5 separate regions of the Homo sapiens genome follow, and regions 2, 3, 4 and 5 are each linked to region 1. The links come from fine-mapping of genetic effects on plasma protein levels. A gene starts in region 1. Each other region holds a variant in brackets. All regions are shown on one strand. Distances are from middle to middle.

Region 1 (4,000 bases):
TTTAAGTGCAAAAAATAAAGGAACAAATAATGCCTCCACTAAAAGAGTATCAAGTTTGTTTGTTGTTCATGTAAAGCAAATTTCCAATTGGAATTTGAAAAAAAAAAACCACAAGTGTCTTACCAGAAAAGGAAAGAAAAACTCCAGATTCTCGTGCTAATTCATGTTCCTGAGTTGCCCACAGCCATAAGACAGGTTTGCTCAGAGATCCAGGGTGCAGGCACCCAGCTTTCTTTGCTGAGTGTGGGAGTCCCAGGGATTGGGGTCTAAAGTCAGAAGCCTGAGGGCTTTCTTCACCTTGGCTATTCACTAGTTTTTAAGGAGTTCTGAAGTTTTATGAAAAGTCTTTTACGATTAGCTGGGCATGGTGGTGCTCACCTGTAATCCCAGCTACTCAGGAGGCTGAGGCAGGAGAATCGCTTGAACCGGGGAGGCGGAGGTTGCAGTGAGTCGACATGGTGCCACTGCACTCCAGCCTAGGCAACACAGCAAGACTCCATCTCAAAAAAAAAAAAAAAAAAAAAAAAGTCTTTTAAGAAAACTGAGATACTGGCATCTAGTAGGTAGAAGTCAGAGATGCTGCCCAACGTCCTACAATATACAGGGTGCCCCCTCCACCACCAACAATAAAGAACGACTTGACTCAAATGCCAGTATTGCAGCTCTTGAGAAACTCTGCTCTAAGCTCAAAAAACTCAGAGAATTCTAGAATGGTGAGAAAAAAGGAGAAGATGCAGAGTCAGGAAGTCCTGCGTCTCTTACTTCCTTAATTTGATGACCTTGTTCCAGTTTCTTAACGCCTCTGCATCTGTTTTCTCAAAAATGTAAAATTATGATAATTATATCACAGGGTCTTCTGAGGATTAACTTAAAACACTGAGATATTTTTATTTCAAGTAGTCGGGTAAAGCACTAGCCAAATACCAGTTGACAACAGCCAATTACAAAAAAGTTGTGTATACTTACACAGAAAGGAAGATCTCTCTATAGGAAAGGATGAGGTGTGAAGGGTGAGGGGCAAAGGTGTGAGTGAGGGGGAAGGGGTGGTAAAGGGAGTTGAAGTCTCATGCCTCAAGGCCAACTGGATTCCGGGTTTGTTAGAGACACTGGTGGGTCTGGCAGAGGCGTTTGAACAAGAGCAACTCCATCTCGAATAGGAGCTGGGTAAACTGAGGCTGAGAACTACTGGGCTGCATTCCCAGACAGTTAAAGGATTCTAAGTCACAGGATGGGATAGGAGGTCAGCACAAGGTACAGGTCATAAAGACCTTGCTGATAAAACAGCTTGCGGTAAAGAAGCCGGCCAAAACCCACCAAAACCAAGATGGCAATAAGAGTGAACCCTGCTTGTCTTCATTGCTACACTCCCATTACCGCTATGACAGTTTACAAATGCCATGGCAACGTCAAGAAGTTACGCTATATAGTCTAAAAAGGGGAGGCATGAATCACCCACCCCTGGTTTAGCATATAATCAAGAAATAACTATAAAAATGAGCAACCAGCAGCCCTCAGGGCTCTGTCTATGGAGTAACCATTCTTTTATTCCTTCATTTTCTTAAACTTGCTTTCACTTTACAGACTCGCCCTGAATTCTTTCTTGCATGAGATCCAAGAACCCCCTCTCTTGGGGTCTGGATCAGGACCCTTTCCCGTAACAGCTCTAACACCTTACAGCCTCTCCCTAGCTAAAGTCAAACTGGAGCTGACCCCTCACATAGCACAGTCCTTAAATGAGATGTGTGAAAGTTTCCAGAACATGCCAGGCCCGCAGTCAAGGACTCTCCTATCCCCTTGCCATGAGACCCAATCCTAAAGACCACCTGTGGGGTTGGAACTTGAGGTTCCAAATCAGCAGTGCCCACCTCCTTCAACACCCAAACCCACAGTCTAACCCTGATGCCGGAAGCCTTCCCCACTCAACAGCAGGCATTGCGTGGAGTGAAAGAAGCCAGGCATGATGGACAGCTTCCTGTCTGAATCCCCTCATATGAACCTGACGGGCACAATGAACCTACTGGGCTAAACTCCAGACGCTGGCCACCTTCATAGGGTGGAGATGACAGAACAGGACAGGAGCCATGGGGCTCCCGGGGCGGGTAGGGGTGGGTCATGTTCCTTGGCTTGGGGGCAGTTACAAGGGTACAGTGGGGCTTGTTGAAGGGCAAAAGTTCTGTAAGTTCGTCCCGACAGGCCAAAGAAACCCCAGAGCCGTCTTTCGACTGACTACAGCCTGGAAGAGAGGCCAAGACCACTCCCTGCCTCTATTGCTCCATTTCTGAGTTGGTCTCACTTTCCACCCCACTGACGGCGCGCTGCGTGAGGGGCGGGGCATAGAGGGAGGGGAGGGGCTATGCGAAAGAAGGCGGGGAGAGTGGGGTGGGGCCGCTCCTTGGAACGGAAGCGCGCGGCCTCGAGGCCCTTCCGGTGCGGGAGAAACTACTACTCCCATAATGCCCCGCGGTCCCGCGAGCTGCCAGTCTCGTCGCGAGAAGCAGCGGCCCGGGGCGACTGAGCGGACAAACGGAAGTGTAGGTTACGGTCTGAGACATCACCGCCAAGCTGGGCATCGGGGAGATGGCCGAGACTGACCCCAAGACCGTGCAGGACCTCACCTCGGTGGTAAGGGACGGCTGTGAGGGCCGGAGGCCGCGGCCTTCCCGGGCGGCGCCGGGCCAAGCCCTGCTGGACAGAGGCGCGCCCACCGCGGCCGCGCGTGGCGTCTGCCGAGGCCCCGTTTCTGGAAGCGTCTCTGGCCGAGGCTCCCGGCCACCTTGACCCCCGGGGCGCTCGGTGCGGGCCAGTCTCCCCGCGGGCGCCCCCAAGCCCGACCCCTTCCAGTAGCCCCATTCATCTGTCGCGAACGCCCTCCGGGTCCCTCCCGCCTACCTCTGACACCCTCCCCGCCCTTCAACTCCTCACACACCCCCGGGTGCCCCAGCCCGGCAGAAACAACCTAAAGACCCTGAGCTTTGAGTCGCAGCGGCCTCCCCAGCCCAGCAGTCTAATTGGACAGGTTGGAAAACGGAAGCCCAGAGAAGGAAGATCTTGCTGAAGGCCGCACAGCTGTCCAGAGGCAGAAATGGGGCTGGAACCCCGGGACCAGGGCTTGCGTCCTGATCCCAGGAAGTTGTCTCAGGATCGATGTGGACCGTGTTTGTTTGTTTCGGTTTTTCTTAGGTGCAGACACTCCTGCAGCAGATGCAAGATAAATTTCAGACCATGTCTGACCAGATCATTGGGAGAAATATCCTTTTTATCTGCAGTCGGCCTCCTGTGGGCCTTTGGAGCCTATTTGCCGGGCAGTGGTGGGGATAAATGAGTAGTTTTCAGGCTAGCTTCAGCCATTCACTTGTAGAATTTGAGCTTGGATTGTACTGTGTTTCTGAGAAGGACTGCGCCGAGAGCTAGGGGCAAAGCTGAGTTAGACTCCTGGCTCAAGGAGCATACGTCTACCAATCCTAATAGCTGGTGTGGTGGACCATGCACTGTGAACTAAGCGCTTTTGTGTGTGTCTTTTGATGCTCAGCATGACCTTATGAGTGGGTTGTAGTGTTATCATCTTTAGCAAATGAATAAATTGAGGTTTAGGGGTTCCATCACTAGTAAGGGTCAGGGCTGGAATCCGATGCGGGGTAGCCATGCCCCACAGTCCTGTACTCTTACCCACCAGCGTGTAACAGTGTCGAAAGAAAATTGGAAGACCAGTTTCCCTAAAGTCGTTGTGTTTAAGGCTGTAGTCTGCAGGGACGGGAGGAAAAAGGCTCAATGAGATGTTGGCACGCGTTGTCTTTAACTTCAGCACTTGATGATATGAGTAGTCGCATTGATGATCTGGAAAAGAATATCGCGGACCTCATGACACAGGCTGGGGTGGAAGAACTGGAAAGTGAAAACAAGATACCTGCCACGCAAAAGAGTTGAAGGTGAGGAAGGGGGCAATTTTTTTTTTCTTTTCTTTTCTTTTTTTTTTTTTTTTTTTTTTTGACACGGAGTTTTG
Region 2 (6,524 bases), 21 kb before region 1:
CACAGATCTCAGGGTACAAGTGTGCTCCTGCAGGAATTCCAAAGTGGACTGCAACGCGGCAGGGGCCCTGCGCTTCAGCCTGCCCTCAGTCCTGCTCCTCAGCCTCTTCAGCTTAGCTTGTAAGTTGACCTAACTCCAGTGCATGCACAAACAGGAAATTGTAACTTCACTGGGTTCGTGAAGCCAGCATTTTCCCATATACCTTTCCAAGAAGATGTTTCCCAGAAGAATCATTCATCTTTAGTGTATGTCTGTATGATAGAACATGTTATATGTAAAAGTGCTCCCACTGATGTTTAAAGGCATCTTAACAATCCCTGCCAGCCAGTCTGAGGGATTGTGCAAAGGTGTTCATTGCTAGCCTGCAAACTAGGTGGTAAGCAAAACTTCCTACAGCTGCCACTCAACTTGAGCTAATGAAAATGCGCCCAGATTAGTTAACTAGTCTATCAGAGGCCTGTTTCTCTCTACATTATGCAGAATAATCTTTTGCAAGGTTAAAACAGATATTATGAGACTTTCTGAGAATAGTCGTGAGAATTTATGGATGGAGGGTGGGCTGCAGGGAAAATGATAAATGCATAATTTACACTGTTTTTTCACTGGCTAGTAATAATGACTATAATATCATGAAACATTGTTTTTAACAAATGAATTATTATGCCAAGTAGTATAGATGTGAGGATAAAATTAATAAATACATGTCTCAGATATTCCTTATTTATGAAATACTAGTCCAATGTTAACTTTAGCCGTTATTCATATATAACTGTTACCATCCAAAAGCCTTTTGGGCCTTGCAATTTACCTTTTGAGAACGTATCGGTGTAATTGTGAATTAGGAAGTTGGGAAATTGACAGAAAAAGAAAACAGAAGGTTTTTTATCCTACTGACAGTGGTGAGCTGCCAGGAAATCACATAGTACAACATTGGACATTCACGTATATAAAGCTCTGTGCAAGACCAGAGTCCTGTGAGTAGAAGGAAAAATGAAGGGCCAGGCACGGTGGCTCACACCTATAATCCCACCACTTTGGGAGGTCGAGGTGGGTGGATCATCTGAGATCAGGAGTTCAAGACCAGTCTGGCCAACATGGTGAAACCTTGTGTCTACTAAAAATACAAAAATTAGCCAGCCATGGTGGCACATGCCTGTAGTCCCAGCTACTCGGGAGGCTGAGGCAGCAGAATCACTTGAACCCGGGAGGCGGAGGTTGCAGTGAGCCAAGATCATGCCATTGATCTCCAACCTGGGTGACAGAGCAAGGCTCTGTCTCAAAAAAAAAAAAAAAAAGGAAACAAGAAGCCATTATAGCATTTCACTGGCCCTTCAGACTGGGCATTTCTGAAAGCGAACATATCATCTTCCCCTCCTGACCTGCCCCTCTGCCTGACTTGTCTCTGATGACTGTACCACCACCATCATCATCACCATCATCTCCATGTCTCCTTCCTGGTCTTCCCACTGCAAAGCCCAACAGAGTCTAAGGGTCCAACACTTTCCATCCATCCCTGCCTCCACCCTCCTGTCTCAGGTACTAATGTCACTTAACCTCGATTATCTCACTGGCTTTCTAACTTTATCTTCTGCAAAGAGAGAGAGAAAATAGAAATCAAGAGGCCACCCCTCGGAGGCTTCTCCTGAGTCTTTTCTGTAAAGCAGAGACAATTTCAGATGAAGGGTTAGAGATGGGAGTGGGGACTGAGAAGAAATTAGGAAACCTTGTCAAAGCACAGATAATTCGGCTGTACAGCAATTGGGCTAAACGTTGAGCAGGGGTGGTCCAGAGGAGTTTGTATACTGTCTTAGTCCATTCGGGCTACTATAACAAAATACCATAAACTGGGTGGCTTATAAATAACAGAGATGTATTGCTCATGGTTCTGGAGGCTGAGAAGTCCAAGAATAAGATGCTGGCAGATTCATTGTCTAGTGAAAGCCCACATTCTGGTTCACATATGGCGCCTTCTCCCTGCATTTTCACATGATGGGAGAGGCAAGGCAGCTCTCTGGGGCATCTCATCCCATCCCATCCATGAGGACACTGACTTCCTGACCCACTAATTTCCCAAAGGCCCACCCTCGTAGTACCATCACCTTGGGGATCAGGTTTCAGCATATAAACTTTGGAGGGGCACAAACTTCAGAGCATAGCAGATACCATGAATTTATAGCAACACATTATGCTTGTTTGCCCCCTTGCTTTGCTGACAGATATCCTAGACCTAGATTTCTAGAGTGTAGGAATGTTCCCTTCGTGAGGGTATGCTGTCTGGGGCCTGGTTTGCTGAGTCATCACTAGCAACCTGCAAGTCACTCTTGCATAGTATCAGCTGGGGAGATGGTGGTGGATCTCAAGTCTGGCTGCACAACAGAAGCACCTGGGGAACTTTTAAAAGTAGCTACCCATACCTGAGCCCTACCCTATGGCTGGAAGGGCAGCTTAGACATTTGTCCATTTTAAAGCCTCACCAGGTGGTCCGAAGACACTGGGAAATCAGGACCGTCCTGGTGAGTGACTCCAACGTTTAGGTACAGGCTCCTGGACATTCTAACAGTGTCCTCCAATCTTGTCCCCACCCTAAAGACGTGCTGGTTCCTTCGGTTCACAACTCAATAGGAAACAGGTGGAGGAGAGTAAAGTTAAGAATACAAGTGTGAAGATGTTTGCTACCGATGGTGCCAGAAAACCTGGCACCATCCCTCCTCCAGAGAGGAGGGTACGGTGAGATGACAGAACACATCCAGTATGAGAATTTCTATAGCACCAACTTTCCAGAAAGTGTTTCAGAAGCTTACAGAATTAAAATGTGAACCAGACAGGAAGTTAAACTTGACAAGGAAGAGAAACCAACTAGGAAGAGTTGGGGATGGAGTTAACTGACACTAAATTTGGCCTGAGCTTCTCATTGGCTTGCCGTACACAATTGCCACTGTG[T/C]GATAAGAGCAACGTGTTAATTGCAGTGGTAGTTCCTAAATGCTGCTGCACGTCAGAACCACTTAGGAAACATTTTCAAACTACGAATTCCTGAGCTCAGTGCCCTAGAAACTTTCATTTGTGCTCTAGATTACGACTTGAGCTTGAGGAATAGGGCGTTGGGGAATGGTAATGAATGGACGCATGGACAGACAGATGGATAAATGAAAGGAAACATATTTCTCCCTCTTTTCTTTTGTTCTTTTTTTCTTCTTTCCTTTGTCTTTCTTTTCTTTTTTTCCTTTATTTGTTTACTTATTTATTTATTTTTTTGAGACAGAGTCTCACTCTGTCGCCCAGGCTGAAGTACAGTGGCGTCATCTCAGCTTACTGCAACCTCCGTCTCCCGGGTTCAAGTGATTCTCCTGCCTCAGCCTCCCAGGTAGCTAGGATTACAGGCATGCACCACCATGCCCGGCTAATTTTTGTATTTTTAGTAGAGACGAGGTTTCACCATGTTGTCCAGGCTGGTCTCAAACCCCTGACCTCAGGTAATCTGCCTGCCTCGGCCTCCCAAAGTGCTAGGATTACAGGTGTGAGCCACCACACCCAGCTCCTTCCTTTCTCTTTCTTCAGAAAGTAAAATATTACAGGCAAAGGTAAAATTGCCTATGTTTCTCTGCCCAATTTTATTTTCTGTTCTCTCTCCTCAGAAACAATAGCTACCATGAATTAGCTATTCATGTGTGTGTCCAGATGTTTTATCCTTTTACTACACACAAACTGACACATACACTCACTCACACACATTCACACATGACACATACAGTTCTATTTTGTGCAGTTTGTAAAACCTCCTGTAATTCATATTATATTGGGCATACCATTCTGCGACTTACTTTTCTTCCTACCTGTGTTACATTCACAAGGTCCATCCACGTTGCTCTAATTCAGCGTTCAGCAAACTTTTTCTGTAAAGGGCCAGGTGGCTTTGTGGGCCATATTAGTCTCTGTCACATATTCATCTTTATTGTTTGTTTGTTTGTTTGTTTCTGTCTTTTGTACCACCCTTTAAAAACGTGAAAACCCTTCTTTGCCTGGGAGCTATCCAAACACGGACTTGAGGTTAGAGTCAGCCCACAGCGTTCCTTGGCTGAACCCCGCTCTGCTCCATTTACTCCTCCTGCTGGAGGATCCTGTCATTTGAATACGGTGCAGTGGATTCCCTTATCAGCAGACACATTCGAATCATTTACTATGACCAACGCTACTACAGTAAGAGATCTACGTTTTCCACCAGCTTCTGGAGTGAGCGCCAGACAGACCACAAGCCCAGCACTGCCCAAAGACCAGCACTTAGAAGCCACTGCTCTACAAGCAATGCTTGCAGCTAGGTGCGGTGGCTCACCCCTGTAATCCCAGCACTTTGGGAGGCCAAGGCAGGCAGATCACTTGAGGTCAGGAGTTCAAGACCAGCCTGGCCAACATGGCCAAACCCCGTCTCCACTAAAAATACAAAAATTAGCCAGGCGTGGTGGCAAGCACCTATAATCCCAGCTACTCGGGAGGCTGAGGCAGGAGAATCGCTTGAACCTGCCAGGCAGAGGTTGCAGTGAGCCGAGATCACACCACTGCACTCCAGCCTAAGCGACAGAGCAAAAAACAACACCTGCAGAGATCCAGGAGCAACTGGAACTCAAGAATAACAGAGTTTGGATAAATCGGAGAGCAGTACTTCCTATGTGATTGCAAAGAGATAAAAATTCTATGTGTGTGTAGTGGGAATGCATATACACACGTACATGTATGTTTGTGTGCACGCACGTGTGTGTACCCAGAAAGTAGACAATTAAGGGGGTTACATCACACATTGCCCTCTGTAAATCCAATTTCTGAACATCAAAGCCTCACTCCGTGACATCTCTTTGAAGAACAAAGGCACTGCAGGACCCTGCTCACGGTTCAGCTACTCGGGACTGGAAATGAGTGTTTTAAATGGAGACCAGAGCCGCTGTGCACCTGCTTGTTAAAATACAGATTTCCAGGCCCATCCAACCTATGGCATCAACATCCCAGGTGACAGGGGCCTCTAGCTCAAAGCCCAGTGTTTGGTTATTTTTATACAATATTTTTATAATAATACACATTCTGCTACCAACACTCCCCATATATTAAGTATTAGTAAACATTGAATTTTTTTTTTTAGATTAAAAAAAAAAGACTTGGCAGTATTTTTTTCTTACCAACAAGGGATTTTCTTGTGGTCCTCACTTTGAGACTCCTGATCTACAGATGACAATCATCAGCAGGTTGCCAAGGATTTCCCACTTCTCATCTCTCAACTGAGCTCTTGGGTCAAGTTAATCTAAGGCAGAATTGCCTGATAATCCCTAAAGAATTGCTTCACAGTTGGTATCATTGATAAAAGACAGGCACAGGTACACTAGCTGTGAAATACCAAATGTGCTTTATGTGCTCGTCTAAGGGGAGCCATCCCATCTAGCATCTGATGATTGTATCTCACTGTAAGTAGGGGCACCTGTGTGTAAAGTCGAAATTATTCCCACAGTGAAACTCTGGATCTCCTTGTGTAGCTGGAAAGTATTCAGTTGACACTCCAATGGTTTGCTGTACAAAGACAGTAGTTTCAGCCCCCAAAAAACAGTTAAAAACAGGTGTTACCACTTACCTTCAAAAACACACTTGGTCTGGTCATGTGTAAAAGGCATAAGATTTTCTAATATTGTTCATTTAAATGTTAGAGATGCCTGCCAAATGTCATGATTTACGTTTTATTATATACCTAGTCCAAGACATTCTTCCTAACCAAAAAGGGATGGACATAATAAGACATGTAAGAATCTGGGTCAGAGGTAGCAGGAACAGGTAACCACCAGTGCCCAACCACTCAAATGCATAAAAGCAGACATCAAAGTGGCCGACCCACGTGTGCTACCATTTATATGACATTGAGAAGAGGCTGCACAGAAGTGAGCTTAAACCCTTAAGCAAGGATTGGAGAAGGAGGAGGGTGATTTCAAAAAACACTGAAATTAGTAGCTTTCTTTTTTTTTGTTTGTCTGTTTTGTTTTAAGACTGAGTCTTGCTCTGTCACCCAGGCTGGAGTGCAAGGGCGCGATTTTGGCTCACTGCAACTTCTGCCTCCCAGGTTCAAGTGATTCTCCTGCCTCAGCCTCTGAAGTAGCTGGGATTACAGGCACCTGCCACCACGCCCAGCTAATTTTTTTGTATTTTTAGTAGAGACAGGGTTTCGCCATGTTGGCCAGGCTGGTCTGAAACTCCTGACCTCAAGTGATCCACCCACCTCAGCCTCCCGAAGTGCTGGGATTACAGGCGTGAGCCACCACGCCAGGCCTGAAATTAGCTATTAAAGTACATAACTTCCTAACTCAGCCATAGTCCTTACAAGAATTTTGGGAGCAAGGAAATCAGCTGGTAGAATCTCTTTGATGTTTCTTTAAAGCAGGGTCAGCAAACTCTAAGACACAGACCAAATCTGGTCTACTGCCCATTTTTGTAAATAAAGTTTTATTGGAACACAGCCGCGCCTATCATTTCCATATCGCCTGTGCCCGTTCTCTGCT
Region 3 (6,524 bases), 38 kb before region 1:
GATGACATAAGAGGCCTGGCATGTATTTGCTCACAGCTGCTTATTGAAGGTTCAACAGATGCACAGCTACCTAGAGGGAATTTGGGGCCATAGATTGTACCGCTCTTGTGTCCATGCTCAAGATTGCTCATTAGCTCACATCTAAATTGTGGCTCCTCTCAGATGGGCCCATCTTCCTGATTATCCTCCCAGAATGTGGGCCTCAGGCTTCCTTGGGACACTAGCCAAGGTCCCTCTCTATGTCCCTGGTATGGGCACCCTGTTCTGAGTCCCAGCTCTGCAGACCTCTGCCCCACCACACACTGTTTTCTCCCCAAGGGTTAGATTAGGAAGGATTTGAATTTAGACAGAGCCACTACTCTCAAAATAGAAGCAAACTTATGGAAATACAAACATATATGATTACATTTACAGGAAGAGCCATACATATTTGTTTTTTAAATCAAATTATAGGTTGGCACAAAAATAATTGTAGTTTTTGCCATTGCAAGTAATGGCAAAAAACCACAATTACTTGTGCATCAACCTAAGAATTCAAACATATGCTGAGCACTTATTATATGGGCTTCCTGTTTTCCCTGTTCTCTGTCTTCCTACATTTCATTGTTCACACAGACAACCTCACTTTGCACACTGTTTCCAAATAAAACCACTTGTACTCATAACTTCCAAGGTAAGACATATGCTGCATGCCTCTGGGCCTACCTCTGGGAAGATTTGGGACAAGTGGCTGGAAAAGTCTACTACTTTCTAAGACTTCTCAGAGCTAACTTCTGAAAGTTTGTGTTGAGATCCTAACATTCTGTGCCTATGAAACCAACCCATCTGATATGGTTTGGCTGTGTCCCCACCCAGAATCTCTTCTTAATTGTAATCCCCACATGTCAAGGGCAGGACCAGGTGGAGGTAACTGAATCATGGGGGCAGTTTCCTTCATGCTGTTCTCATGGTAATGAGTGAGTCTCACAAGAACTGACTGTTTTATAAGCATCTGGCATTCCCCTGCTTGCACTCACTCTGTGCTGCCACCCTGTGAAGAAGATGCCTGCTTCTCCTTGTCTTCTGCCATGATTGTAAGTTTCCTGAGGCCTCCCCAGCAACTCGGAACGGTGAGTCAATTAAACCCCTTTCCCTTATAAATTACCCAGTCTCGGGCAATTCTTTATAGCAGCATGAGAATGGACTCATATACCATCTCACTGTGGCAAGACCAGGGATCCTATTCTTCTAATGGGACCCTCTTGGGAGAGGCATTTGGAGTCTTGTCTTACTGGTCTAGAAATTTTGTAACATGTATATCTAGTCCTTTGTGTTCCGATGTGGATAGCAGCTGATGAGGTTTGGCTGTGTCCCCACCCAAATCTCACCTTGAGTGGTAATAATCCCCAAGTGTCGAGGGTGGGGCCATCTAGAGTAATGGAATCATGGGGGCAGTTTTCCCCGTACTGTTCTTATGGTAGCGAATAAGTCTCAAGAGATCTGATAGTTATATAAACGGGAGTTCTCCTGCATGAGCTCCCTTGCTTGCTGCCATGTAAGTTGTGACTTTGCTTCTCATTCTCCTTCTGAATGATTATGTGGAACTGTGAGTCAATTAAACCTCTTTCCTTTACAAATTAGCCAGTCTTGGGTATATCTTTATTAGCAGTATGAGGATAGACTAATACAGAAACATTATTCGTAATAGACAAAAAGTGGAAACAACTCCAATGTCCATCAGCTGGTGAGTAGATAAACAACATGGTCTATCCATACAATGGATTATTATTCAGCCATAAAAAAGAATGAAGTATTAATACACACTGCAACATGTACAACCCTCAAAAACATTATGCTAAGTGAAAGAATCCAGACCCAAAAAACTACCTACTATATGACTCCATTTATATTAAATCTTCAAAATAGGCGAATCTGTAGAGACAGAAAATTGATCAGTAGTTGCCAGGGGCTGGGAGTGGGCATGAAGAGTTAGTACAAATTGGCCCAAGGTTTATTTTTGGGGGTGATGAAATGTTCTAAAAGTAGGTAGTGGTGATGGTCGCACAACTCTGTAAATGTACTAAAAATTAATAGTCGCAAAAATAAAGAGTAAGAAAAAAGTAAAGTAGAATTAGAAAAAAATATTTTTAATCCCTGCATAATTCTGAGTTTAACATGTTCATGGTTATTGTAAAGAAAATTAAAAATAGATAAATGTATTATTTTAATGTTAATTACCTAGGGAAATAATCACCACTTACATTTTTATATATGTCTTTCTAATTTTTCTCTAATCATATGTAGATTTTTAAATTAGGATCACACTATGTTTTTAGTTATGTCTATTAATGACAAGATATAAAGCACTTATATATATAGCTACTGAACAACAGAACCTGTGAAAAAAAAATCTCAGTGTTTTTTAGCTAAGTGGAAATCCTGTTTGGTCAAGGTTTTTCATGAAATAAAATCCCTGAAATTTAAATAGACAAAAAAACACACACACAAATTGTAATCGCAATAGGTTTGTTAACCAATGCACACAGCAAATCAATATGCCATGACACCAGGTTGCAGCAGAGAAACAGGTTTAATCATAGTGTTAATGGAAAGGGGTCATGATCCAGACCCCAAGAGAGGGTTCTTGGATCTCATGCAAGAAAGAATTCAGGGCTAGTCCACAGAGTAAAGTGAAAGCAAGTTTATTAGGAAAGTAAAGGAATAAAAGAATGGCTACGACATCGAGCAGCCCCAAGGGCTGCTGGTTGCCCATGTTTATAGTTTTTTCTTGATGATATGCTAAACAAAGGGTGAATTATTCATGTCTCCCCTTTTTAGACCATATAGGGTAACTTCCTGATGTTGCCATGGCATTTGTAAACTGTCATGGTGCTGGTTGGAGTGTAGCAATGAGGATGACCAGAGGTCACTCTCATCGCCATCTTGGTCTTGGTGGGTTTTAGCCGTCTTCTTTATTGCAACCTGTTTTATCAGCAAGGTCTTTATAACCTATATCTTGTGCTGACCTCCTATCTCATCCTGTGACTTAGAATGCCTTAACCGTCTGGGAATGCAGCCCAGTAGGTCTCATCCTCATTTTACCCAGCTCCTATTCAAGATGGAGTTGCTCTGGTTCAAACACCTTGACCACAGGGTCACAGAACGAGAAGATGGGAGGGAACCTCAAAGCCATTTCCCCAAGGAAGTTGAGGCTTGGGTTTTTGAGGGCTTTGGAGTGGGCAGAAGTGTGGAGATCAAGAGTACAGGGTGAAGTCATAGGAAGGGGAGAGGAAGCAGCTGTGTTCTCATGCTGATCCTGTTCCCCTGTGGGAGACTTCCAACTGGTGGCTGGAATTCTGGGGAGGTGTGTCTGAAAAACATCTTAAGTGTCTATAGGAACAATGGGGATGCAAATCAATTCTTAAACAGTCTTCTGGCCTTAATGTCAGAGATCCTATCTAGGGGAACGGTGGGGAAGCAAATGTCAGGATCTAGTGCTACTGTAACTGAGGAACTGGTTAGCCACTCACTGCAGCAGAGTCCAATTAACAAGATCCAGGCCTGGTACAAGAAAAGTGAATTTATTTTTGAAGCTAGCTTGGAAAGACACAAAGTGTCCTGCTTTAAGTGTGCTGCTTCATCTTTGGAGCAAAAAGCAGACATGTTTATAAGGTTAAAGGGGAAG[T/A]GAGCAAGGGCAGGAAGTCCCCCTGCTAGCCTGGTGTCTTATCTACCAAACAGCTGAGTTGGCATACAGTTGAGTTGGTGCCTTCCTGGGCAGAAATAAGTTGTAAAAGTGGCCAAGTGGGCGTGTTTTCACCATGTCCTCCTGAGGCCACCCCAGAAGTGGGAGTTCCGTGGAGATGTGCTTTGATCTGCAAATTGACTGTCAATTCTGGAGAAGAGATCACTGGGGCACGTAGATGACCTTGCCTTGTAGGGAATGTGTGGTGAGGGGGAGGTGAGAGGTTATTTTGCATTTCAAAAAGGGCTAGGTAGGAAGCAGGCTGAAAGGGGAAAGGAGAAGAGAAGAGAAAAAAGTAATTAAACCACCTCAGAAAAATCAGGGTACTTGGTTACGGTACATGACCTACTGCAACAAGGAACTGGGCCAGGGTGCAGCCTGATTAACGCTGAATTATAACTGTATTTGTACCCAGAACCTGGCATGCAATTCCCGTCAACCCTGTGGGGATGGTTTCAAAACCTGACCCTGTTTCTCATTGCATCCACACCCACAGCGTCAAAGCAATGCCAGGAGAACCACGCGTGGCTCATGTTTCTTGGAGGAGTCCTGGTTCAGTTCTACAGGCTTCCCACACAAAGCAATATACTGTTGGCCATGTAGGTAAGAAAAGCACAGGAAACTGTTTTTTACCCTTTCTACCAGTGTTTAGTACCAACCACAAGCACCAAAATACTCAAACTTCGAGCTCTGTGGCTCTGGCTCTTATGGACGGGGAAGTGCTTTACAATTGCCAGGCATTCCATTCACTTTATAGAATAGCCAGAAAGCTCCAGGGATGGGGATGCCCTGCCAGGGGGCCACAGCTCTTAAACAGGTGACATGCTTGTGACTGGAAAGAGGTCCCGATCCAGACTCCAAGAGAGAGTTCTTAGATCTCACGCAAGAAAGAATTCAGTGCGAGTCCATTAAGTGAAAGCAAGTATATTAGGAATGTAAAGGAATAAAAGAATGGCTACTCCCCGTAGACAGAGCAGCCCCAAAGGCTGCTGGTTGCCCATTTTTGAGGTTATTTATTGATGATATGCTAAACAAGGGGTGGATTATTCATGCCTCCCCTTTTTAGATCATAGAGAGTAACCTCCTGATGTTGCCATGGCATTTGTAAACTGTCATGGTGCTGGTGGGAGTGCAGTAGTGAGGACCACGAGAGGTCACCCTTGTCACCATGTTGATTTTGGTGGGTTTTGGCCAGCTTCTGTACTGCAACCTGTTTTATCAGAAAGGTCTTTATGTCCTGTATCTTATGCTGACCTCCTATCTCATCCTGTGACTTAGAATGCCTTAACCACCTGGGAAGGCAGCCCAGTAGATCTCTGCCTCATTTTACCCAGCACCTATTCAAGATGGAGTTGCTCTGATTTCAATGCCTCTGACACACTAATGTTAGAGCACCTTGGACATTTTCCTTAATCTGAGTGTCTAGTTTTCTTTTCTAGAAAATGAGAAAAAACTAGAATGTAGACCCCCATGTGCTCAAAGCAACAGCCTGCCTGGTTTGCTTGGACTTTTCCTAGACTGTATGATAACAGGTGCTCGATTCCTCTACGTAAATCTTCACCTTTTATTAATCATATTACCCTGCTTCTCTTAGAAAACGCACAGTTCTGCCCTCCCTACACCAAGATCACAAAAGGCTAAGTGTAAGTCATGAGCCAACCAGACCAAGAGTAACCCAGGCAGGCCAGGTGGCCAACTTGGCCATCTCATAGGCAGTTATCACTGCTCAACTTGAAGAAATACAAGGTTAATTATTGGAGTTTGAAATCCAGCAGTGGAATCCATGTGGTCCTATCGTGGTCATATAATGTGCTGAGGCTCTTACAAGTTGTCAGTGCTGAGTGGGAACGACAAAGCCAGAAACAAGGGCAAGCAGAGGTTGAATGCCAGGAAGACCGTGGCAGGGTGCCAAGTCCATGAAGCAAAAGCACCGCCATGGTCTAAAAGGCATAGTCCTCTAGAGCAACAGAGCCAGTAACTCAGATCCAAAGGAAAGAAAATGATAACCCTTTCCCCCTCAAGACTTGCCATTGTATGGCAGCAGGAGGGCTGCTTGCAAAATAAATAACCCACCAACATTTGTAGGTTGGAGATCTCTCAGTCAAGAGTGACAGGCTGTCACTGAAAATGGGTCGGAAGGAAAACTGTCATTCCTACTAAGCAATTTTAAATAGGCTTTGTTTCCAGATATCTGTGCCTACAAGTCCTCATTTCCTCATTTGGAAATGGGATTTGATATGGTTGTATTAGGAGGTAAAATTAAAAATATCTCCTTACATCCCATTCACACTGCTGCATGATGGAATTGCCAACCTTGTAACCAAAACACATGTCTTTCTAATAAGAAGTCAATGACACAAGAGAAAAGAGATTCCTGCAGCTAAGGTTTGCTCCTGGTATTTTCCCCATGATATCACCCAACACAATGTACACTCTGTGGGTGGAGAAGGATGGGGGGTGACTTTTTAGCTTGTATACTTATTTGAGAACCTTAAATGAGATGCCTATTAAACTATCCATGTATACAAATAGACTCAATATTAAGAAAAGAAGTAGTATAAGACTGAAAGACATGCTTAAGAGAAAGGAGGGAGCCATACTTCAGGAATGGAGAAATGAAGAAAAATCTATACTGGCTAAAGTCAGGTTAGCTAGGAGGGAACATATGAGGAAGGCCCAAGTCTTATGCTGCTAGAAGCCAGGGCAGAGGCAGTAGGCTGGAAAGGACCAGTGGTCATCTTGGAAATATGTGCTCCACTTGAAGCCATTTGGATAAAAAATAAGAATTCTTAGAACACTGGAC
Region 4 (6,524 bases), 81 kb before region 1:
GTGACATCAGCTCACTGTGGCTCCCTCTGCCTGGAATGTTCTCCCTTGCCCAGGCCTTCATGTGACTGTCTCCTTTTCACTTCAGTCTCACTATCATCTCCTTTGCAAGGCTTTCCCTGATCACCTTCGCTAAAGAAGCCCTCCTCAACTCTGCCCACCTGTCACTGGTCACTCCCTGTACTGTTGCCCAATGGGACGGCTTTCAGAGCACATACCACTCTCTGAAGTTATCGTATTGTGTGTTAACTATTTTTATGATCTCCCTTCCTCTTGTAGAACAGAAGCTCCATGAGAACAGGAATTTCATGCCTTGTTCTCTTTCATATATGCAGAGTAAAGAAGAATGTCTGACATATAATAGCTACACAATAAATATTGAAAGAATGAGGGGATGGGTGGACAGATGCATAGATCCATGGAAGAATGGATGGATGGATGGATGGATGGATAGATGGATGGATACATGAATTGATGGATGCATGGATAGACACATGGATGAGTGATGAATGCCTGGGTGGGTGATGAATGCATGGATGAATGTGGAATGCATGGATGGATGATGAATGCATGGGTGGGTGATGAACGCATGGGTGAGTGGTGAATGCGTGGGTGAGTGATGAATGCATGGGTGAGTGTGGAAAGCATGGGTGGGTGATGAATGTATGGGTGAGTGATGAATGCATGGGTGGGTGATGAATGCATGGGTGGGTGATGAATACATGGGTGAGTGATAAATGCATGGGTGGGTGATGAATGCATGGGTGGGTGATGAATGCATGGATGAATGTGGAATGCATGGGTGGATGATGAATGCATGGGTGGGTGATTAATGCATGGGTAGGTGATGAATGCATGGGTGAGTGATGAATGAATGGATGAGTGTGGAATGCATGGCTGAGTGATGAATGCATGGGTGGGGGATGAATGCATGGGTGGGTGATGAATGCATGGGTGAGTGATGAATGCATAGGTGAGTGAGGAATGCATGGGTGGATGATGAATGCATGGGTGGATGATGAATGCATGGATGAGTGTGGAATGCATGGGTGAGTGATAAATGCATGAGTCGGTGGATGAATGCATGGATGAATGATGAATGCATGAATGGATGGATACATGGATGGATGAAGTTGTACAAGCTCAAACCAGCTCAGATTGGAGGAAGCGTCTTACTTGAAGCCCCCTGTGACTATGTTGGGGCTTGTCTCCTACCATCTCACTGAAGGAGCCTATCTCCTAAGCTCTCTCCTAGACACCTGTATCCTTACTTTCCCCTCCCTTCCCAGCCTGAGCAGTGTCAGCGTCAGGAGCAAGATGATTGATGAAGTGTCAGCAGGGACACAACCAGCTGGGTGAGCAGGGGCTATATTGTAACCTGCAGCCAGGAGCTGCTCCCTTGAGATGGCCTTTGGGTACAACTCTATATGGCTTCCCAGCCTTTCTTCCAGCTGCAGGATCATCCTACCCCTGGGACTCCCTTATTGGTGTCCTCATTAGGCCAATCAATGCAAATTAAGCCCTGATTCACAGATAGTGGGGATATACAGTCACCACGACACATATGGCCTCTGTCATCCAGTTTCACTCAGTCTAGAGAAAGAAAGAGATGAATAAACAGACCCTTTTAGTATAAAAGCTATGATGAAAGTGACATTTGAGGTGAAAACACTACAATATAACAGCAGCAGAGAGAAAGGCACATCAGTCAAAGTCAAGGAAGGAAGGGACAGCTGGGCTCAGACTTGCAGGTAGACCAGGGCAAGGATGTTCAGGCAGAGGAAATGGGATAAACAAAGGCATGGTGGCCAAGAGAGCTAGATCCGTTCACTCAACACACAGGCAGGACTGCAACGGGTCTTGTGTATCCTGTGGATCTAATCTATCCTTAGGCGTCAGTCTGGGAAACATGAGTTCCGTCTTCTCCACTAATCTGGGAAGGAGGGTCAAGTGGTACCTCTGTCTCCACCTCCTCCAGGCCTACACAGTTTGTGACTGACATACTGAGCACCAGGTCTGCATCACCCACCTTATCACATGTGGGCACAGGATCTCTGCCGGGGGCAAGCGGTATGATGTGTCCTGGTCACGGTCTGGCTGGTGATTTGGTTACATCCAGACACGGAAGTCGACCTAGAATAACCTAAGACAAAGGCAGTCGTTTCTCTGGCTGACATTGTCAGAACGTTAAACAACCAAAAACAGCAACAAAGTGATGGGCCAAGCAGGCAAGTTTGGGAACAGCTTTAATGACTAATTTCTAATGAGAGTTTCAAAACACTAATTTTCCAGAACAGAGAATCAAGTTGTGCTCATTTATAACCCGTCATCTGCAATGAGACAGAGGATATTTCTTTCTGTGTTGTCAGTTAACTTTCTGAGCTGGACAGAATACAAACTAGAAGAGGTGGGCCGTAAATCAGCTCCTTTGGAACTGATAAATGGATATTGTACAAATCCTGCATTTGCATTGGCTCTGAGGACATAAATCAATTCTCATGATCTTACTTTGGAAAAAAATTTCCCTTTGAAGTCAGACTGAGCGATTTATGTAGCATTCTTTCCTGACTTTATTTTTCTCAGCTTTTTAATGATTGTCTTTTCACTTTCTGCACTTACACAACATTGTAAAGTGTTGCATTTTCATGTAGAGAAAACTGGACCTTGGTCTGAATCTTCCCACAAGGGATAATTTTATAACTTTTTTGCTCAGCCATTGAATAACAATTGCTTTTGGAAAGATTGTCATAATGTATCAGTTAGAAGGCACCTTAGAGACCATCATTTCACATGACCTCTGTTTTTTAGATGGGGAAACTGAGGCCCAAGAGTGACAGTCATGTGCTGCAGGTCACAGGCCAAGTTTGTGACAAGACCGGGGTGTCTGTTCGGGTTTTGGAGAAACAAGGACCCTAGATAGGGTCCATTCATTCATTCATTTATTTATTTATTTGTTCATTCTCCAGACAAATCGTTATCTTGGCCCCTTCTGCTGCAGCCATTGCCACTAAGAAGGCAGGCCCTGCAGGGGAGACTCTGCACGTCTTTTGTTTGTTGAGTATTTGCTAAACGGGCAAAAAATGGAAGAAAAATCAAAACATCACTGTTGGCTGGGCACGGTGGCTCACGCCTGTAATCCCGGCCCTTTGGGAGGCCGAGGCGGGCAGATCACGAGGTGAGGAGATCAAGACCATCCTGGCTAACACGGTGAAACCCCGTCTCTACTAAAAATACAAAAAAAAATTAGCCGAGCGTGGAGGCGGGCCCCTGTAGTCCCAGCTACTCGCGAGGCTGAGGCAGGGGAATGGCGTGAACCCGGGAGGCGGAGCTTGTAGTGAGCGGAGATGGCGCCACTGCGCTCCAGCCTGGGGCGACAGAGCAAGACTCTGTCTCAAAAAAAAAAAAAAATCACCGTCCTTTTTTGGCGTTCTGTCAGTCAAGAGTATTCTGAAGACTATCGAGGGAGGAGTGTTTGGTTTGTGCCTTGTTTTGTTCTGTTTTAGCAGCCCTGGAAATCATGGATACCTCCCTTCCTTGAAGTTATCTTTCCCATGTATAACAGCTGTATTGATTTATGAGATATAATTCACATACCGTACAATTCACCCATTTAAAATATACAATTCAATGGTTTTTAGTGTAGTCACAGAGTTGTGCAACCATCACCGCCCTCGATTTTAGAACATTTTCAGCACCCTAAAGAGAAGCCCCATCCCCCTTAACCGTTAACGTGCTTCCTTCTCCCCACTGCTCTAGTGACCACTAACCAGCTTCCTGTCTCTGTGGGTTTGCCTAGTACGGACATTTCATCGGAATGAAATCAGCTAA[CAT/C]GTGATATCCTTAATGGTTTTGTAGCAGAAAGACATCTACGTGGGAAGGGACGCTGCTGAGTGTTTAGAGAACAGACACATTCATCATTTTATTGTATTTTCTCAACTTTAGAACAGTTTTCAAACATGTGGAAACGTTGGAAGAATTTTATAGCAAGCACCCTTTGCCCCATCACCGAGATTCTCCCAGCACATCTTCTTCTGCTTGCTTTATTTAGTGCACACCTATCCACCTGTTCCAGAGATCACCACTGCGGCAGTGGGTTCTCAAAGGAGAACCTTCCAACCTTCCCGCATTGAGAAAGAAAAATATCAGTTTTACTAAATGAAATATCAACATTGGAGATTTTATAAGCCGAGAATGTTAGTACATCAACATTAGAAGCCCTAAAAAATAAAATTGCATTCAAAGGCCAAAAAAGTCTTAGGCTTGCTAGCTCTCCAGGAAAGGCCTGTGTGTTCAGGACAGGAGGACTAAGGACCAAACAGGTTTGGGAATGACAGATCCCTTGACGGAACTGGCTGACAACTTTGCTCACCAGTCACAGCAGGGCAGCCCAGGGAGTGAACAGGGGCGTTGGCGGGGAGGGCAGCCATTCCCGCCCGCTGCTAATGGGCTCGCTTCTCAAAGGAGCTTTTGGGATTCAAGGGTTTAAGTATCAAGTTTGACTGATGGATTTGGAGGGAAGAATTGAAAACTGCCTGAGGGAAGGCGCTTTGCTTTTTCTTTTGTGAGGCAAAAGCTTTTGAAAACTGTGACTGTACAAAGAGCCACAGCTCCTCTGAGGAGTCTGTTATGCGGCAACACATACTCAGATGTGGACAGCAGTGAGCACGCTGCCTGGAAAGGGGGAACAGCACCGCGGGCAGGCTTCAGAGCCACACACCACGTCTCTGTCTCAGAGTCTATCCTCGACCACAGGGTTTAAGTCTTTGATGTGCACACTGGGCCCTGGAGAGAAGGTGCCTGTTCTCACGGGCTGACCCCACAAGCCTGTGAGCCGTAAGCGGTGTGATTCGCTAACAGTTGAATGGCACTGGCTATGTGTGTATGTGTATGTGTGTGCGTGTGTGTGTGTGTGTGTGTTGTGAAGATACATTTAGTTTGAGTCCCTATGAAACGAGGAGAAAAGGTCTTGACAAACAACAGTTCAATAGCTCCTGCCAATATGTGCAATGCAATTCTTTTTAGTGAGTGAATTAGGCTTGATAAGAACTACATTAAAGCTTCTGTTGGAAGAGGAATTCAAAATGCTCATCTTTGTAATTTACCCACTCAGTCACCAGTGTTTACCAAGTGCCAATGGAAGCCTGGAGAGAAGAGAAAGCAAAGATAAATAAGCGTGTCTCTCGGCCTTCAAAGCACTGTGCCCAGCAGGAAGGAAAGCACACAATTACGACATGCCGTTTTTATTGTATATATGTTTATATATTAGGTTGGGCCATGTGAAATTGCTGATGTGACGGGTTTTGACGAGAGAAATGGCAACTGTGTGGTTCAACCTAATATTTAGATAGTATTGTCTTAGCTCAGGCTGCCATAACCAAATACCACAGACTGGGCAGCTTGAATACAGACATGTATTACTCACAGTTCTGGAGGCTGGAAGTCCAAGATCATGGTTCTAGCTGGTTCAGTCTCTGGGGAGGGCTCTCTTTCTGGCTTGCAGACAGCCACCTTCTTGCTGTGTCCTCATGTAGCCTCATTTCCTTGGGGCATGTACCTGGAGGGTGGGGATTAGGGAGCATACAGGGTCTCCTTTTATAAGGATCCTCATCCTATCAGATCAGAGCTCCATCCTCATGACCTCATGTAACCTTAACTTCCTAAGGAGAGGCCCACCTCCAAGTACTGCCACAATGGGGGTTAGAGTTCTATCAACATCCGAATTTGGGGGGAACAGCAACAAATGTTCAGTTCACAAGTATAAAATGGATATATTATTTATGTGCATATACATCATATACTGTTACATATCATAGATAAGACATGCATATTATACATATGTGTATGTATATATAGTAAATATACCATCTATAGTAATAAGGTTTCACAAAGAAGAGAAAATGGAAATGTAGAGATATAAAGGAAATCATCTTTGTATTACTAGTCTTTTTATTGCCAAAAAAATTTTATTTGCAAAACAAATATAGGCTCATGGTAAAAATTTTAGCAACTGAGATAGGCAAAACTAAGAAAGATGTAAATCCCACTAGCCAGATACCACTACTCCTAAGACCCAGGTCAGACAGCGAGGCATCACTGTTAAGAGCATGGGCGCTATGGTTGGACAACTCTATCACTTACTAGCTGTGTGTCCTGGACCCAGCTACTTAGTCCCTCACCACCTCTGTTTCTTCATCTATATAATGGGTCAGTAATCCCACCCACATGAAGTTATTGTTAGACTTAAATAAGCTGACCCATGTAAAGTGCTTGGAAATTCCCTGGCACAAAGCAAGTGCTCAATAAATATTATCTGTGACTCTATTATTATCATCATCATGATCATAATTATTACCGCAACTGCCACTAGCATTCCCTTCCAAGGTATTTTCTCAGCCAGCAGCAGCAAATCTGTTTGGGATTGTATGTCAAGCCCTGTGAAAAAGAAGGGTTTGGCACACAGGGCTTCATACAAAGAGGGGTTTTGAAGCTGACCTGGCCATTGCCAAGTCATTACCGTGCTTGTGAGA
Region 5 (5,593 bases), 31 kb before region 1:
GGAAGTTCTTCTAGCCTTGCCTCAAACCCAGGGTGAGCATTAGTATATGGTGATTCTCCTGGTGGCTGAGCCACAGGCTCCAACACTGTTCCCCAGTCATGAGGCTCTAAACCACTACCCCACAGAGGCCCATTTCTATAATAAGGTCCTGCTCCCAAGCTTCCTCCTTTCTCTCCATCCTTATCCCTCCCCCTTCCCTGCCTGGCATGGTCTTGTAGCTGGAAGACGAGGCCTCAGCTCTGGGGTCTCATTTCTGCTTCACAAACCTCCATCAGCACAGACTGTCCCCATGTGGAGCCCAGCCCCCTGCTGTTATCTCTGAAAAAGATCTACTCAACTCTATAATCATTTTCGGCTACTGAGCTATTCGTCCTACAGAAATAGTAAATGCTATTTTACTGTGCATGGCCGGTGATACCAGCAAGCCTAGGACATTGGTCCCAGCGCCTATCCTGCCTATTGTCCTACTACAGGGACAACTATGACTATGCTAGCTGGAAATGATGATTCCTTGGGTACCCAGCCTGACTATGACACAGGCTGTCATAGTCATTTCCAGCAAGCAAAATAGGAACAGGAAGCTAAGAATCTCAAATACATTTAGAATGACCTAGTCAAATGCCATTTCTTTTTTTTTTTCTTTGAGACAGAGTCTTGCTCTGCTGCCCAGGCTGGAGTGCAGTGGTGCAGTCTCAGCTCACTGCAACCTCTGCCTCTTGGGTTCAAGCGATTCTCCTGCCTCAGCCTCCAGAGTAGCTGGGATTACAGGCACGTGCCATCATGCCCAGCTAATTTTTTGTATTTTTAGTAGAGACAGGGTTTCGCCATGTTGGCCAGGCCAGTGTCAAACTCCTGACCTCAAGTGATCTGCCCACTTCAGCCTCCCAGAGTGCTAGGATTATAGACCTGAGCCACCACACCCGGCCTACCATTTATTTGTGAAAAAAAAATAAAAAATTCCACTTACATGGGTTCCCCAGAGTCGTCAGATTCATAGAGACAAGGAGTGGAATGGTGGCTGCCAGGGGCCAGGGGAAGGGGAATGGGGACTTGGTGTTTAATGGGTCAGAGTTTCAGTTTTGCATGGTGAGAAAGTTCTGGAGATGAATGGTGGTGATGTTCCCACAACAATTTGAATGTACTTAACACCACTGAACTGTACACTTCAAAGTGGTTAAAAATTGTCAATTTTATGTTATGTATATTTCACCACAATGAAAAGAACAGCTCATAAGAAGGAAGCTGTAAATAGTAATAATAATAACCTGGAATTATGGTTTAGGGATTATAGCTTGCTTTCATGGTTAAAATGAGAGCCTGTAAGACTCAAGCTATGTAATAAAAATTCTGGTGGAGAAAGTATAGGTTAATGCTTGCTCTAGAGAAGGAGGCCTGACACTCACGGTGTCCATTTGAGCCTGTCCTAAATCTCTCTGGACCTCAGCCTCACCATACCTACAATGAATTGGCCTCAGATCTTCTGCTCTGATCTTGCACCAAGCCTGGGCTTGCAATCTGCGTGTCTGTGGACTCTTCAGGTATATTTCTGAATGCAGGTGCGTTTCTCTGGAGGCAGGGGCCATGACCTTCAGCAGATTCCCAATTGGAAACTCACCTCCCAACCACGTTGAAGACCTGAAAGCTGGAATGGTTCATCTGTCAGCAGTCCTTACAGCTCCTAACATTATAAAGACAGAAGCCCCTACAAACTCAGCCAGACCCCCACATGTTTAGAAGTTAGACTTCTCTGATCCTTAAAATGGCTACCATGAGAACATGGCCCCTGGGCTCCCTCCAGAAGGGAGCTGCAAAGAGGGAGTCCCATTCTAGCTCCATTTCTGGGTGTTTTGCTCAAATTGACCTGTTTTCCCTATTGAAAGAGAAAATTCCGGCCAGGAGTGGTGGCTTATGAGCCAAGATCGTGCCACACTGCACTGCAGCCTGGGAGACAGAGCGAGACGCTCTGTCTCAAAAATAAAAAAAAAGAAAAAAGAAAGAAGTAAAAGAAAAGAAAGAGAAAATTCATAAAGGAGGGACCCCGTCTTCACTGTGCCTTGGTTTTGATTCTTGGTTATGAGTGGTTCCATGGTGGTGGAGGCTGCTGATGGAAAGAGGAACAGAGGGGTGAGGGATTTTTGCTGAAAATCTAGAGAATACTTAGAAGCCCCTATATTTCCTGGGCCCCAGAAATGATTGGAGCCAAATGGGCTTGTGAGGAATTTTGAAATTTTGAATTTCACCTGAATTTTGGATGTGATTTTTCTCTATCCCGTGCATAGAAACTGAGAGAGGCTCTTTCCCTCAGGATTTTGTGAATCTTGTCTTTAACTCATCGCCCAAAGTAACAAACTCATCTTACTAACTTCAGAAAAAGACATCACCAGCCTGGCCTGGGAATAACACATAGGAAATTGAAGACAGTAGTATACTTAAGTTCACAAAAGGCCAATTCTTATGGCCGTATTTCAAATGCTCATAACGCCTTCTCATCCATTCTACCAAATGACTTGTCTTCATAATATATTCAGAGTGAAAAAACATAATGGATTCTTCCGAGATATTCAATTAGTTCAATAAAAAGAGAAAAATAATTTTTCAGTAAAGAAATTTAACTAAATGACTAAAACTGACAGTGAAAAACCAACTTCAAAGTAATTATGCATTTCTTTTGAGTTTGCGCTCTAACGAAAGTTGATGATATGCCACCATTAGAAATAGCCATCCTTCAAATGATCAATTGCATTTGTGTTGCTATTTTAGCAGACATTTATTTGAATGTTTACTCTGTAGCTGTCTTTGGGTGTTGATATATTTAAATTTCCACCAGCCCCGCTAAAGAGTATCGGCTCGCACTTCTTCATGACTCACTGCTCAGCTTCCTTTAAGCTGGTTTTTTCCCCGTTAACAGAAACCTCTTCCAAAAGTGTCACCAGTAACATTCTCCTTACAAAATCCGGTTACTTCTCTTCACTTCTTATCCTCGTAGGGGTCATGACACATTTAATTATGGGTCATTGACTCCTCTTCCAATTCTCTCCTGCAAAACTAGCATCTGCTCTTTAAACTTTGGGGTCTCTCAGGATTCCGTATTCCACCCCTCTGGCATTCTGAACTTTCACCCTGGGTAACCACTTTGTTAGAGAAGTTTCAAAGCCATCTATGTGTTGATGACTTCCCAACCCCTAACTCAGCCTGGGCACTTCCGCCAAGCTGCACAGGTGCATTGAATTCAAGGGGTCGTTAGCACAATCAAGACTGAACCGCTGGTCTTCCCACTTCCCACTGCACTCTGCTCTTCGGGCAGCCTCATCTGAGTGCTTGATCACCAAGAAAAGACACTGCTTTCCTGCTCGAGCTGCACACATCATGCCTCTCTTCATCCATGGCTGGTCCGCCTGCCTGCAGGGTCTCACATTTCCTATCAATCCAATCGTGTGCTTTCTGAAGATAAGTCAGATCAGATTGTTCCTGGATCACTGCCTTTCCGGAAAGCCTCTGGTGGCCTCGTGCACTCTGTAGAATTGGTACAGG[T/C]CCCTTGTGATGCTACTCAAGGCCCTCCAGGAGCCCATGCCATCCTCAGTGCCCTCAGCTCTGGAGGAGCAGCTCCACCACGGCACCCCATGACTTTGCATGTAGAGCCACATGGGGAGGGTATGACCTGCAGCTGCGCTGAGTCTTGGCAGAACACCCTGCGGTCCCCCAGCCAGTTTCTCATTGCCTTCCGGGTTCTGTGAGGTGCGGGGGCTTTCTGCCTGCCCCTCTCAGGACACAGCTGCTGCTGTAAAACTGCTGAGAAGCAGCTTGGAGTTGGCTCTACTGCAACATCCCTTCTTTCTGTTGCAGTTGTCCATTCCCTTTTATTCTGCCATGACCTGCGCCAAGGCCATCATGCCCACGCCTGCTTCTACTGTCTAAGTAATAAGCTGTCTGCATCTAAAGAGGTCTCCTTGCTTCTTTGCTAGGACTTGCCTGCGTCCTGTATGCCAACTTCAAATACTCACTACCCTTCTAACCCCCGTGTAACCTGATAGCCTAACTGCAAACTTAATATGCGTTTCAAAACATAAATATAGTACAAGAGAAAATAAAATTATACTTGGAAATCTGGCTAAGTGAAAATAAGGATTAGAAAAATAAAAGAAAGCCATAGGTTAGATTAGTACTGTATAGTATTAGTTTATTAAACTGATAAGAACAGATCTGTACTTCATCTTAGCCAAGAGGCCAAGAAACGATTGTACTACTGTATAAAATTATGGTGCTGTAATTTTAGAGGTGCTTCAAATTATTTTGGGAATAAGGCAAATCTGTATACTTAAAATGTGTGACCTATGAATTTGGCTCTAACCTTTCTTGCAGAAAATTAGAAACTACTAACAAATGGTTTGTCCCAAGAGCAAACCTCTAATGCACAAATGATTAAAGATGAACTCAGAGAAAAATGAAGGCAAGCTGAGTTTTATTAACATTGTTTAATGTTTAAGTGAAATACATTATTAGGGCTGGGCACAATGGCTCATGCCTGTAATCCCAACACATTGGGAGGCCGAGGCAGGTGGATCACTTGAAGTCAGGCGTTTGAGACCAGACTGACCAACGTGGTGAAATCCCATCTCTACTAAAAATACAAAAATTAGCTGGACATTGTGTTGCACACCTGTAATCCCAGCTACTTGGGTGGCTGAGGCATGAGAATCACTTGAACCGAGGAGGCAGAGGTTGCAGTAAGCCGAGACCACACCACTGCACTCCAGCCTGGGTGACAGAGTGAGACTCACCAAAAAAAAAAAAGAAAGAAAGACATTATTAGATTGGTGATTATGAGGGCCATTATCTTAAAATAGTATTTCCTAAAATGAAAAACATTTCAGGAAGTAGCTGAAATATCAGGAAAAAAACAAGGCTTTAAAAATAAGGTCCAAAGATTATATGATGATTGCTTCTATGCCCCTGTAGCCAGCTAGTGATCTCATTTCTCATCACTAACCCAGCTTTCTAAATCTGTCCTGTCCAGCAGGGTCAGCCATCCCAGCCCCCAGTGGCACCATCAGCCATCTGAGACTCTTTTTCACCCCCAGAAGAAAATGTCTTGGATTTAATCTTTCCCTCTTTAGTCAACTCCTCAGTTAGAGTAGAGCTACAGCAGTGAAACCATGGCCATCTCTCACGGAGACTCCGTCCTCCCCCTGCCACCAACATGTGTGAATACCTGGCTACTTATGTAAAAGATTTAATTTGATAAGTGAGGAAAAGTCATATTTATCTCCATTCTTTGAATAGATTTCAGTGTGTGAGAATGACTTTTTAGTGTGTGTCAGAAGCTTAGTATTCTAAGGGTAAAGTATTAAGCCTAAAGAACTTCAATCAGAAGTCTTAAGGCCGGATGCGGTGGCTCATGCCTGTATTCCCAGCACTTTGGGAGGCCTAGGCAGGCGGATCACGAGGTCAGGAGTTTGAGACCAGCCTGGCCAACATAGCGAAACCCCATCTGTACTAAAACTACAAAAAAATTAGCCGGGCATGATGGCAGGTGCCTGTAGTCCCAGCTACTCGGGAGGCTGAGGCAGGGGAATCGCTTGAACCCGGGAGGCGG

Alleles and levels. Alleles are on the strand shown, and positions count from the first base shown. The strength of an association depends on the size of the effect and on how common the allele is. Not every link is listed here.
In carriers of allele T in region 2, the plasma level of the protein whose gene starts at base 2,479 in region 1 tends to be higher than with C alone (weak association).
In carriers of allele T in region 3, the plasma level of the protein whose gene starts at base 2,479 in region 1 tends to be higher than with A alone (strong association).
For the plasma level of the protein whose gene starts at base 2,479 in region 1, allele T in region 5 goes with a higher level than allele C (weak association).

Evidence for each region. PIP is the chance, under the fine-mapping model, that this variant and not a neighbour inherited with it causes the effect. The UK Biobank Pharma Proteomics Project read protein levels with antibody pairs (Olink). The fine-mapping took linkage between variants from a reference panel, not from the people measured, so its PIPs are less certain.
Region 2: its variant is fine-mapped to the plasma level of the HSBP1 protein (UK Biobank, PIP above 0.99).
Region 3: its variant is fine-mapped to the plasma level of the HSBP1 protein (UK Biobank, PIP above 0.99).
Region 4: its variant is fine-mapped to the plasma level of the HSBP1 protein (UK Biobank, PIP above 0.99).
Region 5: its variant is fine-mapped to the plasma level of the HSBP1 protein (UK Biobank, PIP 0.99).

Annotation. Positions count from the first base shown.
Region 1 is chr16:83,805,500-83,809,499 of GRCh38, forward strand. HSBP1 (heat shock factor binding protein 1) reads left to right here and starts at 2,479. Exons shown (of 4, transcript NM_001537.4): 1 at 2,479-2,622; 2 at 3,181-3,247; 3 at 3,806-3,926. The coding sequence starts at 2,578. The coding sequence ends at 3,924. RefSeq lists an enhancer at 2,273-2,774 and silencers at 2,432-2,608, 2,626-2,915.
Region 2 is chr16:83,783,354-83,789,877 of GRCh38, forward strand. CDH13 (cadherin 13) reads left to right here. Exons shown (of 14, transcript NM_001257.5): 13 at 1-119. Among named protein-coding and RNA genes, the nearest start is that of CEDORA, 14 kb to the left of the region's middle. The variant T/C (reference allele first, on the strand shown) is at 2,941.
Region 3 is chr16:83,765,891-83,772,414 of GRCh38, forward strand. All of the region lies in intron 11 of CDH13 (cadherin 13), which reads left to right. All of the region lies in intron 1 of CEDORA (CDH13 antisense oligodendrocyte and neuron associated lncRNA), which reads right to left. Among named protein-coding and RNA genes, the nearest start is that of CEDORA, 3.8 kb to the right of the region's middle. RefSeq lists an enhancer at 3,583-3,722. The variant T/A (reference allele first, on the strand shown) is at 3,665.
Region 4 is chr16:83,723,449-83,729,972 of GRCh38, forward strand. All of the region lies in intron 10 of CDH13 (cadherin 13), which reads left to right. CEDORA (CDH13 antisense oligodendrocyte and neuron associated lncRNA) reads right to left here. Exons shown (of 4, transcript NR_188499.1): 2 at 5,420-5,551; 3 at 2,027-2,140. Among named protein-coding and RNA genes, the nearest start is that of CEDORA, 46 kb to the right of the region's middle. RefSeq lists an enhancer at 4,490-4,990. The variant CAT/C (reference allele first, on the strand shown) is at 3,826.
Region 5 is chr16:83,773,748-83,779,340 of GRCh38, forward strand. The region is part of intron 11 of CDH13 (cadherin 13); the gene reads left to right. It also overlaps the pseudogene LOC124903810. Among named protein-coding and RNA genes, the nearest start is that of CEDORA, 3.6 kb to the left of the region's middle. The variant T/C (reference allele first, on the strand shown) is at 3,532.